Linked DNA regions of Homo sapiens: region 2 is linked to region 1. The links come from fine-mapping of genetic effects on gene expression. Tissue or cell type: hippocampus. Region 1 holds a variant in brackets; the other region holds the start of a gene. All regions are shown on one strand. Distances are between the middles of the regions.

Region 1 (5,000 bases):
CAACATGGCGAAAGCCCGTCTCTACTAAGAATACAAAAAGTAGACCAGGTGCGGTGGCTCGTGCCTGTAATCCCAGCACTTTGGGAGGCCGATGCGGGTGGATTGCCTGAGGTCAGGAGTTCGAGACCAGCCTGGCCAACATGGTGAAACCCCATCTCTACTAAAAATACAAAAATCAGCCAGGCCTGGTGGCAGGCACCTGTAATCCCAGCTACTCGGGAGGCTGAGGCAAGAGAATTGCTTGAACCCGGGAGGCGGAGGTTGCAGTGAGCAGAAATTGTGCCACTGCACTCAGCCTGGTGAGAGAGCGAGTCTCCGTCTCAAAAACAAAAAAAAAAATTAGCCAGGTGTGGTGGCAGGCGCCTGTAATCCCAGCTACTCGGGAGGCTGAGGCAGGGGAATCACTTGAACCCGTGAGGCAGAGGCTGCAGTGAGCCGAGATCACACCATTGCACTCCAGCCTGGGCGACAAGAGTGAGACTTCGTCTCAAAAAAAAATAAATAAATAAAAATAAAAACTAAATTAATTAAATGTAATTAATTAAAACAAAAACAAAATTAAAACATCAGCTCCTCAGTTGCACTAGCCACATTTCAAATGTCAAAAGTCGCATGTGGTTAGTGGTGACCAAACTGGACAGTGGAGATAGACGGTATTTCCAACATCACAGAAAGTTCTATCACTGTGCAATACCAGTGAAAAGTACCTCCATTCTCTCAGAAACACATCTGGACAACTTCCCTTATGAATTTCTATTTCAGTGTCTATGCTTTTCTACTTAGGGGTATTAAGTTGTTTGCTTCTAGGGAGTTACTTATCTCTATTTTTCTGCCTTATGCGCATATACACATATTATCTAATCTTTTAAGATCATCATCCAAATCTTTGTTTCCTCTTCGCTAAGTGGCTTATTCTCTTTGCCATTGCCTCCTTAAATGTGAAATGAGAGTAAACGCGGAACACTGATATTTATTTTGGGGTGCAGTGGATCACCTATCTTCGATCAGTGATGAAAACCAAATAAAAGCCAAATGCTATTTATTATTAGAAATGGTATATTAATAGTAGTGTAACAGCAAGGACTGACTGCATTATCAGCAATTTGTAGTAAGTGTTTTTACCACAGTGTATTAGCCCTTGTTTTCCATTTAAAACATGTCGATTTAAAGAACTTCTGAAGTGGTGATCCAGTCACACCAGATGGCGTTCAATCCAGTGCTATCGTGGATTGTGGGAGTAAAGCTCTAGTCAGAACTCACTGACATGGATTTTAAAGAAACGCATGTTGTTACTGCTTTAAGAGAAGTCAATGTACTTTTGTTTCAAGTAAATCATCAATATTTTGAATAACTCTAAACTGATGATTCTACAAAATACTGACTAAAGCCTCAAACTCACCTGAATTATATACTTACCATTAACCCAACACTTTAAAAACACTGAAACCTAACAAGTTTGTTCACATCTTAGGTTAGCAGTTTTCTTTTATTTTACAACTATGGTTATGGCTGATTTCACTACATGATTTCTAGCATCTACATACCTGTTTGTCTAGTATACAGGCACAAGACCTAGTACTGTATGCTTCAGTGAAAACTTTTTGAAGAATATATTTACTATTTATTGACACCAAGACCCAGGTAGTGCTTAGATCTTTACCCCTACTCTGGTGCTTCTTCTTTCCCAAGTATTAGGGAACACAAACCAAACTCCTGGGTTTAGATGACAAAAGGAATTTAGAACTTTGAAATCCAAGTCTAATTAAAATGTCTGAACTGTTCTGGAAGGAGGAAGAAGAGACATAGAGAAGAAAGGTGTCAAACGACAAATTATTATTATTATTATTATTATTATTATTATTATTGCTGTTTATTTATTTTTGAGACAGGGTCTTGCTCTGTCACCCAGGCTAGAGTGCAGTGGCGTAATCACAGCTCACTGCAGCCTTGACCTCCTGGGCTCAAGTAATCCTCCCATCTCATTCTCCTGAGTACCTTGGACTAAAGGCAGGTGCTACCACACCTGGCTAATTTTTTTTATTTTTAGTAGAGACGTGATCTCGCTATGTTGCCCAGGCTGGTCTAGAACTCGCTCTCACGTAATCCTCCCACATCGGCCTCCCAAAGTGTTGGGATTACAGGCATGAGCCACCACACCCAACCAAGAGATTTATTTATATGAAAGCTGTGATTTGTTTTTAGCTAGTTAACAGTGTCTAAGTATGATCACCTTTAAGAGAAGGTAGCTGTTTCTCCACAGTTTCATGATGGGGTCCTTTATTTTGACAAAACCCAAATTGCATGAGCTAGAAGTTAATGCAGAAATACATGGCATGGCAA[A/T]TACTGCCAATAGCAAAATCCTTTTTATTTATTTATTTATTTGCTAAGTCATTGTTGTCTGCCTGCCAAATATGAAGTATTGATTTAAAACAGATGGACTCAGGCTGGACACAGTGGGTCATGCCTATAATCCCAGCACTTTGGGAGGCTAAGGTGGGCGGATCACTTAAGCCTAGGAGTTTGAGACCAGCCTTGGCAACATAGTGAAACTCCACCTCTACAAAAAATACAAAAATTAGTTGGGCATGGTGACACACACCTGTAGTCCCAACTACTTGAGAGGCTGAGGTGGAAGGATCACCTAAGCCTGGGAGGTCAAGGCTGAGGTGAACCGTAATTGCACCATTGCACTCCAGCCTAGGTGACACAGTGAGACCCTGTCTCAAAGAAAACAAAATAAAATAAAATAAAATAAAATAAAATAAAATAAAATAAAATAAAATAAAATAAAACAAAACAAAATAAAATAAAACAGATGAACTCCAATATACAAATCAGAATTTAAGGGATTATTACTATGGGATCTAACTTCCACATCTGTTTTATATTATTTTGCTGGTTTAATTTTGAATGCAGTCATGATGTATACTCAAACAACCACAAATAGAAACTTTTCCCTTTTTTGTCTCCAAAGGTTTGTTTTCCATTTGGTTTTATTAACTGCTTTCTTCTTTACATTTGCATTATGCCATTAAAAATTAGAGGGCTGTGAATATAGGTTGGAGAGTATACCTGTATTTAACTGTTCTATTCTTTCACTTTTTCTGTAGATTGGAAAACTTTTAAAATACACCTATAAGCATGAGTTGACGTTAACTAAGTAAAGCAAACTGTTCCCATTCCCTCTCCCAAAAAGAATTCCTCATTGCTTTCTCTACGCCTTGGTATATGCCAATCACCCGACTTAGAATAAAAAACTTTCTCCTCTTAGCATCTCCCCCTGGCCCCCCGATTGCTACTTAATATTTAATTCTTTCTGAAGTTGTGTATTTAATATATGCCATATATAACCTCCCATTCGTCCTTGCCCTCATACATTAAATATATGTATTTAATATATGCCATATATAACCTCCCATTTGTCCTTGCCTTAGACTTCCCTATGACTGTTAAAAAACCCAGAAGCTCTGGCATGCTTTGGAGGGCTTGGCCTTATCTCCTCTCCATCGTTTCGTGGATCACACACTCCAACCACACCAGCCTACTTACGATTCCCAGGGCATACATTTACTATTTTGACGCCATCCTTTTGTTCATACTACTCTCTATACTTGTGAAGCTCTTTCCCCTTTGCTCTATCACTAAAATCCCATTCATCTGACAGGGCCCTGCTCAGATGCAACCCTCCTTGACAAGTACTTTCTGATCCCTCTAGTCAAAATTACTCTGTCCTCAAAATTTCTCTACATCTTAAATTTTTTTAATTCTTGAAAATAGAAACTCTCTGATTTGTGAATTTAGTCTCCACATTACCTAGAACAGTGCTTGCACACAGTAGGAACTCCACAAATATTTACAGAATGAATAAAAATTATTAATAATGATATACCAGACTTTTGGCAGGGACCACTGCTCTTTGTATACCAGAATCTACCACATAGATTGGTAGTACCAATAAATAGGTTAGTAGTGCCAAGCGCAGTGGCTCATGTCTGTAATCCCAACACTGTGGGAGACCGAGATGGGTGGATCACTTGAGCTCCGGAGTTTGAGACCAGCCTGGCAAACATGGTGAAACCCTGTTTCTACAAAAAATACAAAAATTAGCTGGGCATGGTGGCCTGTGCCTGTAGTCCCAGCTACCCGGGAGGCTGAGGTGGGAGGATGGCTTGGGGCAGGGGTTTCAGTGAGCTGAGATTGTGCCACTGCACTCCAGCCTGGGTCAAAGAGCCAGATCCTGTCTAAAAAACAAACAAACAAACACCAAAAACCAGATTTGTAGTTTACCTGTAAACTCAAAAACCAAAAACTCAGAGGATCCTTTTGGTTTTTAACATTAAACATTTGCATCATTTGCATTAAATAAAACAATATTTAAAAAAGGTTGGCAAAATCAATTAAATATGTCAGGTGGGCTACTGGATGGAGAGGTGCTATACAACACTGTTTTGGAGGCAGCCCTGGGCCTCTTACCATTCACCATCCCAAAGCAACACAGACTACCAGGGAAAGGAAAAGCTATTATATTTTGGAAATGCTTCCTTTGATTTTTTTTTTTTTTTTTTTTTGAGATGGAGTCTTGCTCTGTCGCCCAGCATGGAGTGCAGTACGATCTCGGCTCACTGGAACCTCTGTTGCCCGGGTTCAAGTGATTCTCATGCCTAAGCCTCCTGAGGAGCTGGGATTACAGGTATATGTTACCACGCATGGCTAATTTTTGTATTTTTAGTAGAGATGGAGTTTTGCCATGTTGGCCAGGCTGGTCTCAAACTCCTGACCTAAAGTGATCCACCCACCTCGGCCTCCCAAAGTGTTGGGATTACAGGCGTGTGCCACTGTGCCTAGCCTCCTTTGATTTTTATAACATAAAATGTTACTTGAACAGGATGTTTCCATGGGTTAAGACAGAAAACTCCTATGTAACAGGAAACAATGAATTCTACCACACTCCTTTCAGATAAACATTTTCTGATCAACCTGTACTTTGGAAAGAGAACAAC
Region 2 (8,052 bases), 200 kb before region 1:
CTCTTGAGGCTCTGTGCTGTTCAGTGACACTAACCTGCCCCCCAGCCAGCCAGCCTTGGCCCATCAGCACATTCTGTCTCCAGCCTCTGAGATTGGTGCAGGGACGGTATGTGACCTGACCTGAGGCCATGAGACCTGAGACATTTGCTGCCAGCTCCTGAGAAAGAAGCTTCCTCGCTTCCAGAACAAACACTCTCTCTCCTGTTAGACCCGAACAAGGACGCCATCGTGCTCCAATGAGGGTCTGAGAATACATGGATAAGCAGACTGTTTCTCCCACTATACACTCACAGTGGGCTTCTTACACCAGATGGGTGTTTGGGGAGGCGTTCCCACATAGTAAGCAAGCAATCAATTACGCAGCAGACACCAGTTCGGTGTCCTCTAATTCAGTTCACTTCCCCACCTGGAGATAGCGTCAGGTTCCACAGGCTAAGGACTCAGTCCCCAAGATGCTCCCCTTCTCCCGATGCCAATCACAAGTCCCAGAGTATTTTAGCTGTGCTTCTGACCAACTGACTATAATTGAGGTTCCCACAATCCCCTCATTGGTTGGATTAATTTGCTAGAGCAGCTCACAGAACTCAGGGAAACACGTTGACTCACTTATTATAAAGGATACCACAGAGGACACAGATGGGCAATGCATAGGGCAAGGTATGGGGGAGCAGAGCGCCATCCTCCAGGAGCCCCGTGTGTCCAGCTGTCCAGAAGCTCTCCAGACCCTGTCCTTCAGGGTTTTTATGGAGGCTTCATTACACAGGCGTGATTGATTAAGCCATCGGCCATTGGTGATCAACGTAACTTCCAGCCCCTCTCCCCTCTAAGAGAGAATGGGAGTGGGGCTGAAAGCCCCAGTCCTCTAATCCTGCCTTGAACTTTCTGGAGTAGCCCCCATCCTCAAGCTACCTAGGGGCTGCCAGCCAACTGTCAACTCATTAGCATACAAAAAGACACTTACCACTTTGGAGATTCCATAGATTTTAGGAGTAACATGCCAGGAAATGTGGACAACAACTCAATATGTATTTTACGATATCACAAAGGGGAGCCAGCCTCCAGATGAAACCAGCAAAATGGGACCCAGAGTGGAGAGACAAGGACACTGGTCCAGGGGCTACTGATTCAAGCCTCACCTGAAACCCACATCACCTCCAGACTTCTGAGCTATGTGAGCCGCTAATTCCTTCTTGGGTTTAAGCCAGCGAAGTTTCAGCTCTCTACTCCTTGAGACTGAAAGAGTTGACTAACTCCTGTGAGGCTGGATCCATGAAAACAAAGGCTGTCATCATGATCAGGGCTCTCATCCTATCTCAGCTCCATTTCCCTCTGGGTTGGTTTTGCCCTTAGGCAGGCCCTGCTTTCCTAGTGACAAGATAACACCTAAAATCCAAATTCAGCTTAGCAATCCCCCTGGAAAGAAAGTATGTCTTTTATACCAGTCAGGTGTCTGCTGCACCAATGCCATGCAACAAGCACTCTGAAAATCTCAGTTGCTTATAACAACCATTCCTTTCATACTCATGGGTCTGCAGGTTAGTTGGGGGGTTGTTAATATCAGAGTTAGGCTGGACTCCAGTCTCTGGTTAGGTTCAATTTGCCCCACAGTCTCCATCCTGGACTCCAGATGAAGGTGCCATGGTCGCCTGGGTGTACCTTCCTTTCTCATGGTGGGCAGGAGCTCTAGAGGGGCAAGCGGAAACACAAGATACTTCTTTAAGGCCTAGCTTGGAACCCACACATCATCACTTCTACCGACATTCCATTGACCAAAGCAAGTCAGTGGCTGAGCTCACCATGGATGGTGTGGGGAAGAATATTCACCCACAGTGAACCATGCAAGGGAGGGAGGGAATGAAGAAGCCTCAGCAAAACTCCATCAAACACGTCTTCCTCAACAGTGCCTCAAAGATCTTGGAACTGACTCATTGGCCTGGCCTGGGGTCAATGCCTGAGGGAGGTAGGAGTAAGGGTACAGCTAGGGGTCTCCCATATGGGAAGAAGGGTTATTTCCCAAATGGAAGTCAAGGTGTTGCTGACACAAGAAAGGGCAATGGATCCCACATAGGCAATGAATAAATAATTACATAAACCAGCACTCAGCAAACGGCAACGTGAAAATAAATCACCTGAGATGCTATTACAATGCAGATTCTGAGAGCCAGGCATGGTGGCTCCGACTGTAGTCCCAGCTACTAGGGAGGCTGAGGCTGGAGGATCTCTCAAGCCCAGGAGTTCGAGGCTGCAGCAAGCCACAATCGCACCACTGCACTCCAGCCTGGAAGACAGAGCAAAATCTCATCTCTTTAAAGAAAAAAAATTCATTTAATAAAAAATAATGCAGCTTCTGATTCAGTAGGTCCAGGGTGGGGCCTGAGATGCTGCATTTCTTTTTTTTTTTTTTTTTTTTTGAGACGGAGTCTTGCTCTGTCACGCAGGCTGGAGTACAGTGGCGTGATCTCGGCTCAGTGCAACCTCCGCCTCCCAGGTTCAGCAATTCTCCTACCTCAGCCTCCTGAGTAGCTGGGATTACAGGCACGCACCACCATGCCCAGCTAATTTTTAGAGACGGGGTTTCACCATGTTGGTCAGGCTGGTCTCAAACTCCTGATCTCATGATCCACACGCCTTGGCCTCCCAAAGTGCTGGGATTACAAGCGTGAGCCACCGAGCCCAGCTGAGATGCTGCACGTCTAAACAGTCCCAGATGATGCTAGCAAGGACCAGTAGCAATGAGCAAGACTGAAATTGGGAGAGTCTCTCAGCCTTCTGATGCCACATTCTCATTTACAAAATGATAATTCCACCTGCCACACAGACTTTTCTCAGCCAGGAAGATGGTGCCCTCGGGGGGATAAGGTGATGCGACATTTGTGCTGTCACTCACCTCCTGCCTGCCCCCTGCACCTCGAGGCCTCCCTCAGCCCCCAGGAAAGGACTCACAGCCCAGCCAGCAAGGAGACAGGAGGAAGATATCACAAAGTGAGTGCAGCTTCTGTTAACTGCCTTAAGCTGCTCCCTGCAATAATGTTGGTGTAATCCATAAGATTCAATTATGGTTATCAGACAATTAGGCACACCACAGCGAGGTTATTGCATAATTAATGCTCAGTCCCCATCTCAGCCTCTGAGAGTGACACAGGTTACAAGATTCACCTGCCCCGCATCTGGGAGAGGAGCAGGGGCACCCAGGATGGGGAATGACCTCCCTGTGGGCTCAGAGGAGGATGTTCTTAGGACCCCAGAGGCATGGCAAAGGGACAGTGTGTGGCTGAAAGAGCTTGAGTCAGTGTGTGCCCAGGGCCCTCACGCCTGCCATTGTGTTTAGGACTTGGGCTTTAATCTCTGGAGCGAGATTCAAATCCTGCCTCAACTACTGATTGGCTATATGGCATTAAGCACTCGCCTTACATTTTTAAAGCCTCCATCTCCTTGTCTTTTAAAGAAGGGAATTGATGATGTTATGAAAACTGGATGAGAGAGTTTGCATATTGGTTAGATGGTTCCTGCAGTACTATTTTCATTATTTCCCTCTCTGAGCCTCAGTGTCTTCATCTGTAAAATGGGAATAATTAGCCTCACCTTGCCTAGGCTTGAAAGATCAGCCGGTAGTTTGAGACCTGCCTGGGCAATATAGCAAGACCCTGTTCACCACAAAAAAGGAAAAAAAAAAGGATGAAAGATCAGTTTGTGAGTCAAGTAAGACACACATGTGAACGGGATGTGTGGAGTGCTTTGCTAACGCGCCATTGTCTTAGTTACTATGTGCCTGGTTTTCTGCTCAACCCTCCAGGGTACGACTTTGTACAAGTCCCCAGGTCTCAACAGGACAGTGGGTGATCAGCCCACCTGAGAAGTGAAACTCATGATTTGGGTGAGTAGACTAGAGGAGAATCACTTCTTTCTTTCTTTTTTTTTAGACGGAGTCTCGCTGTGTCACCCAGGGATCTCAGCTCACTGCAACCTCTGCCTCACCGGTTCCAGTGATTCTCCTGCCTCAGCCCCCCGAGTAGCTGGGATTACAGGCACACGCCACCACACCTGGCTAATTTGTTATTATTAGTAGAAACGGGGTTTCACCATGTTAGCCAGGCTGGTCTTGAACTCTTGACCTCAGACGATCCACCTGCCTCAGCCTCCCAAAGTGCTGGGATTACAGGCATGAGCCACCATGCCCGGCCTGAGAATCATTTCTTGAGCTATGATCTGTAACATTCAAATGAGCCTCAACGGACACAAAACAGAAAAATCATCAAAAATGTCGGTGAAAAGTTCAGGTGGGAGAACTCAGGTGATGGTGCAGACAGAAGCAAGTAGGGGAGAAAGCTGGCTTCAGGGAGAGTGGTTAGGCCTTTGTGAGAAAGACTGGGGACTTCTCATATCATCCTCTGTGTCCCAGTTCCCAAAACACACACGCACATGGGCACATGCATGCAGGCACACAAAAACAAGCCCATACACCAGACGAAAAAATACAGATGCAGGTACACACACATGGACATGGACATGTGTGTGCCTGTGCCCATATAAACAAACATTAGTGCACACACACACTCACACACACACAGGCTCGGGCAGTATGTGCTCACACACAACCATACACACAGATACGCACAGAGGTACATTCACACACAGACCAACACACACAGGCACACAGATGCATGCACGCATGCACGTGCGCGCACACACACACACACGTGCACCCACCCTCAGTGATAACCTTCCAATCCACTGGCCTCTCCGAAATTAGCACAGACCATTTTCCCACGACCCTTTCTCGCTGAGCGTGTGATTCCAAAACTGTCCACAAGAAGGTGCTCGGGAGCCAGAATTCAGGCGTTCCCGGCCCGCGGACGCTTAGAGAGGGGAGCTTCGGAGTTATGGGGGGACCCACCCTTCCATTTAATAACTGAGAAAGCCACGGGAGGGGACTTGCTGGGCTCACAGCCAGTGATCCCTGCCCTGTTTCCTTATGGGGACTGCGGTCAGAAATGGGGAGTGGGGCAGAAACTGTCACTGTCACGGTCCTGTTTAGAGAGGAAGGTCGGAGAAACCAGTGCCGTGGAAGGCTCTGGGGCGTTGACAGGCGCTGTCCCCAGCTCACCGGCTCTATGACCCTGGGTAAGTTACCTGGCTTCTCTGTTCCTCAGTTTTCTCGTCTTCCCTGACCCAGGCTTTCCCGACTCCTCTAGGGGCCCCTTCCCCTCTCCATGAACACCTTCAGATCTCGGACTGTTTTCTCCACTCAAGTGGCATCTCAGCTATCCCCTCCCGGGTTAGGCCTCCCTGGCCCCTATTTAACGGTGTCCCCACCCCCACCACTATCTTGTTTGTACCAACACTTGCTGCCTGACAATGCACACTTGTTCATTTGTTCACGTTTATTTTGTCTTCTCCAGAAGAATGGAAACTTCGTCAGAGCAGGGACGTGAGGGTGAACTGCTCACCCGGGCACCGCTGGCGACCGGAACCCAGCTCCCTCCGGGCTCCGGGAGAGGCGGCCTCAGCTGTGTGCTGGTGCTGCCCTCCAGCGGCGCTGGGTCCCCATGGCACCTGGCTTTCTCCTGCTCCCCAGGGGCCTTTTCTTCTCCCGCCCACCTGTCACCAGCCGCCAGGGCAAGTCTCTGTGTGACTCTAGGGTGAAGGTGGAGGGACCTTGCCTCCGAGGATTCATCCCACCCGGATTCCGATGAGTGAGGGACCCTCTCTGGCACCTGGTGTTTGAATGGCCAGCCTCACAGTTAATAAAGACAAGTTTGGTATCAGCTGTGGGATCCGTCCAGAAAAAGACACCTTTGGGGCAGAAATATAATGGTGCCTGTCTCGACATAGTCTAATAAGGAAAGAAAGACAAGCCAGTCCAACGGTCCCATTTTACACATGAGGTCACTTCATCCCCACCTAGGACAGGAGGGTACAACGGCCTGGCCTAAGATAACCCTAGAATATGGTCACTCATTCTTCCACCCACTGAGAACCTCAGGGCAGTAGAGTTTTATGCAAAGCATGTGGTCCTGAAAAACTTGCATAATTCAAAGCGTGCATAATTTCTGACTAATTTTGCCAGAGAAATGAATGCAAAGTAGAAAGGATAGGTTGCATACATTACTCCAATTGTGGCATATTTTTGCCTTAATGCTGCTTTTTATTTCCCTGGCATTATCGCTAATATTTCATAACGCACTCTCTGCTAAATTAACAGTGCAGCATTTCCTGCCGGTGGTTTGGCCTTCTTCATAACGTTTTATCACATCTCACTTCCTTTCCAATGTTATCGATTTTCAGGTGCGTTTTTCAGCACCACCACTTAAAGAACACTTGGATGACATTGTTACAGGATATGGGTAAAATATTTAAAGTTATAATAACTGTGAACATTGAGAAAATGGCACACCAGTCACCAGAATCTCCTGCAGAAATTAGAAATTCAGAGGCATGTAAACAACAGTGCATGCATATAGAAAGCAGGTATTTCTATTTAATAACCAAAGCAACGTCGCCATGTGGCAGGTTTACAGTCCTCATTTAACAGCTCACTTAGTTCCTCCGACTCAAGGAAACTGCAATTCTTGACAGGTTTTTTTTTAACTGAGGGGCTTGGCATTATTTCCAGCTTAGTGCATAAACATGTATTAGCATTTTTATATTGCACCTTGCCAAAGTCACAGTTTAGACTCCCATAAACAGTGACTTCACCCTAAATGGTCACCCTAAATGGTTAAGGCTGTGTCCTTAACCCCAGAAGGGTGGAAATGTATGACTCCACCTAGTCATCTCAGATACGGATTTCAGAAATCTCAGCCACCCACCTCATACTTACACAGGGACCTTTTTGGAGGCAGCATCATCTGAGGCCGCTCTTGCCCAATTTGGCTGGCCCCACCTCCTCCCCAACGTCATCTTCTCTTGCAGTCTAGAGAGGGGGGCTACTCCCCCAATATAGCATCCATATTTAGATCCATGTTGGAGGGTGGGTAGAAAGGGGAGGTAGGATGAGGGAAAATTGAGTCTCAGTTTCACACATTTGTAAGATCGTCAGACTTTCCACATTGCCAAGAAACTCGTCAGCACAACCGCTGTGAATTGGCTTCTTGGCCTTCGTCTGCCCAGAATTGCTTCCAGAATGGCTCCTTCAGCTTGGCCTGAGCTTGGCCCCAGAAAGAGTGCCACGGGCCCTAGGAAGGAGGAAAAGTGGGGCATTCAGGGCAGGCTCTGAACCCACTTGGATTCCAGTCCTGATTCCATTTGCATGTGACCTTGAGCAAGTCTCTATGCAAGGCACTTCACCTTTCTGGGCCTCAGTTTCCACCTCTGTCAAATGGGGATAATAATACCATCTACTTCCCAGAATTGGTGCCAGAATGAAAAGCAGTCCCTGCTGTGATAGTGTCTAGAACAGAGTAAGTGCCCAATAAATATTCCTTCGCTCTTGTTGCAGTTAGAAAAGCGACTGGATGAGGCGTACATTTACTGGTACCCTGGGATGTATAAGGGCCAGTGTCCGGGTGAGGCGATCCTGCCCCTCGGAGAATTTATGGTCCAACTTTGGAGAGTGAACCTGCCCTCCCACTAATTCAAGAATTCACCAGCCAGGAGAACTGCATGTGGAATTGCCCGGTCCAGCCCTGACTTTGCGCAAGTGTCCATCAAGTCTCCTTCTGCCTCTGGGCTGCCTCTGAGACTTGAGGGGGAGTAAACAGGAGCCTAGGGGTCTCTCCACCCTCCAGGTGCCCCATCAGGCCGGCACCTCCCCACCAGCCCACCCCTCCCCTTGCAGCAGCAAATCTGCAAATGTGCCTTGCAAGCATGTCCAGTGGGCCAGAAGCCACACTCATCCTCCCCACCCCTTCAGAGGACAGCAGAGGTGCCTGGCCCAAAGGCGGTGGTTGGAGCCTGGGCTTCCTGCCTGGGGTGGGGTGGAGAGGGATCTGCCTTCTCTTCTGGGCCCCTGCCCCCCAGGTTTTTCTTCCTCGATACTCACGTTCCTTTCCCTGGACAATCCCTTGCTCTATGAGGGCCTCAGCTTTCCCCTCTGAAAAATGGGCAGCCTGG

The links. PIP is the estimated chance that this variant, and not a neighbour inherited with it, causes the effect.
Region 2: LINC02716 starts here. The variant in region 1 is fine-mapped to the expression of LINC02716 in hippocampus (GTEx, PIP 0.94).

Annotation. Positions count from the first base shown.
Region 1 is chr11:45,972,590-45,977,589 of GRCh38, forward strand. All of the region lies in intron 7 of PHF21A (PHD finger protein 21A), which reads right to left. Among named protein-coding and RNA genes, the nearest start is that of LARGE2, 52 kb to the left of the region's middle. The variant A/T (reference allele first, on the strand shown) is at 2,341.
Region 2 is chr11:45,766,594-45,774,645 of GRCh38, forward strand. It overlaps LINC02716 (long intergenic non-protein coding RNA 2716), which reads left to right and starts at 4,839. Exons shown (of 2, transcript NR_027134.1): 1 at 4,839-5,121; 2 at 5,400-5,765. RefSeq lists an enhancer at 4,531-5,032.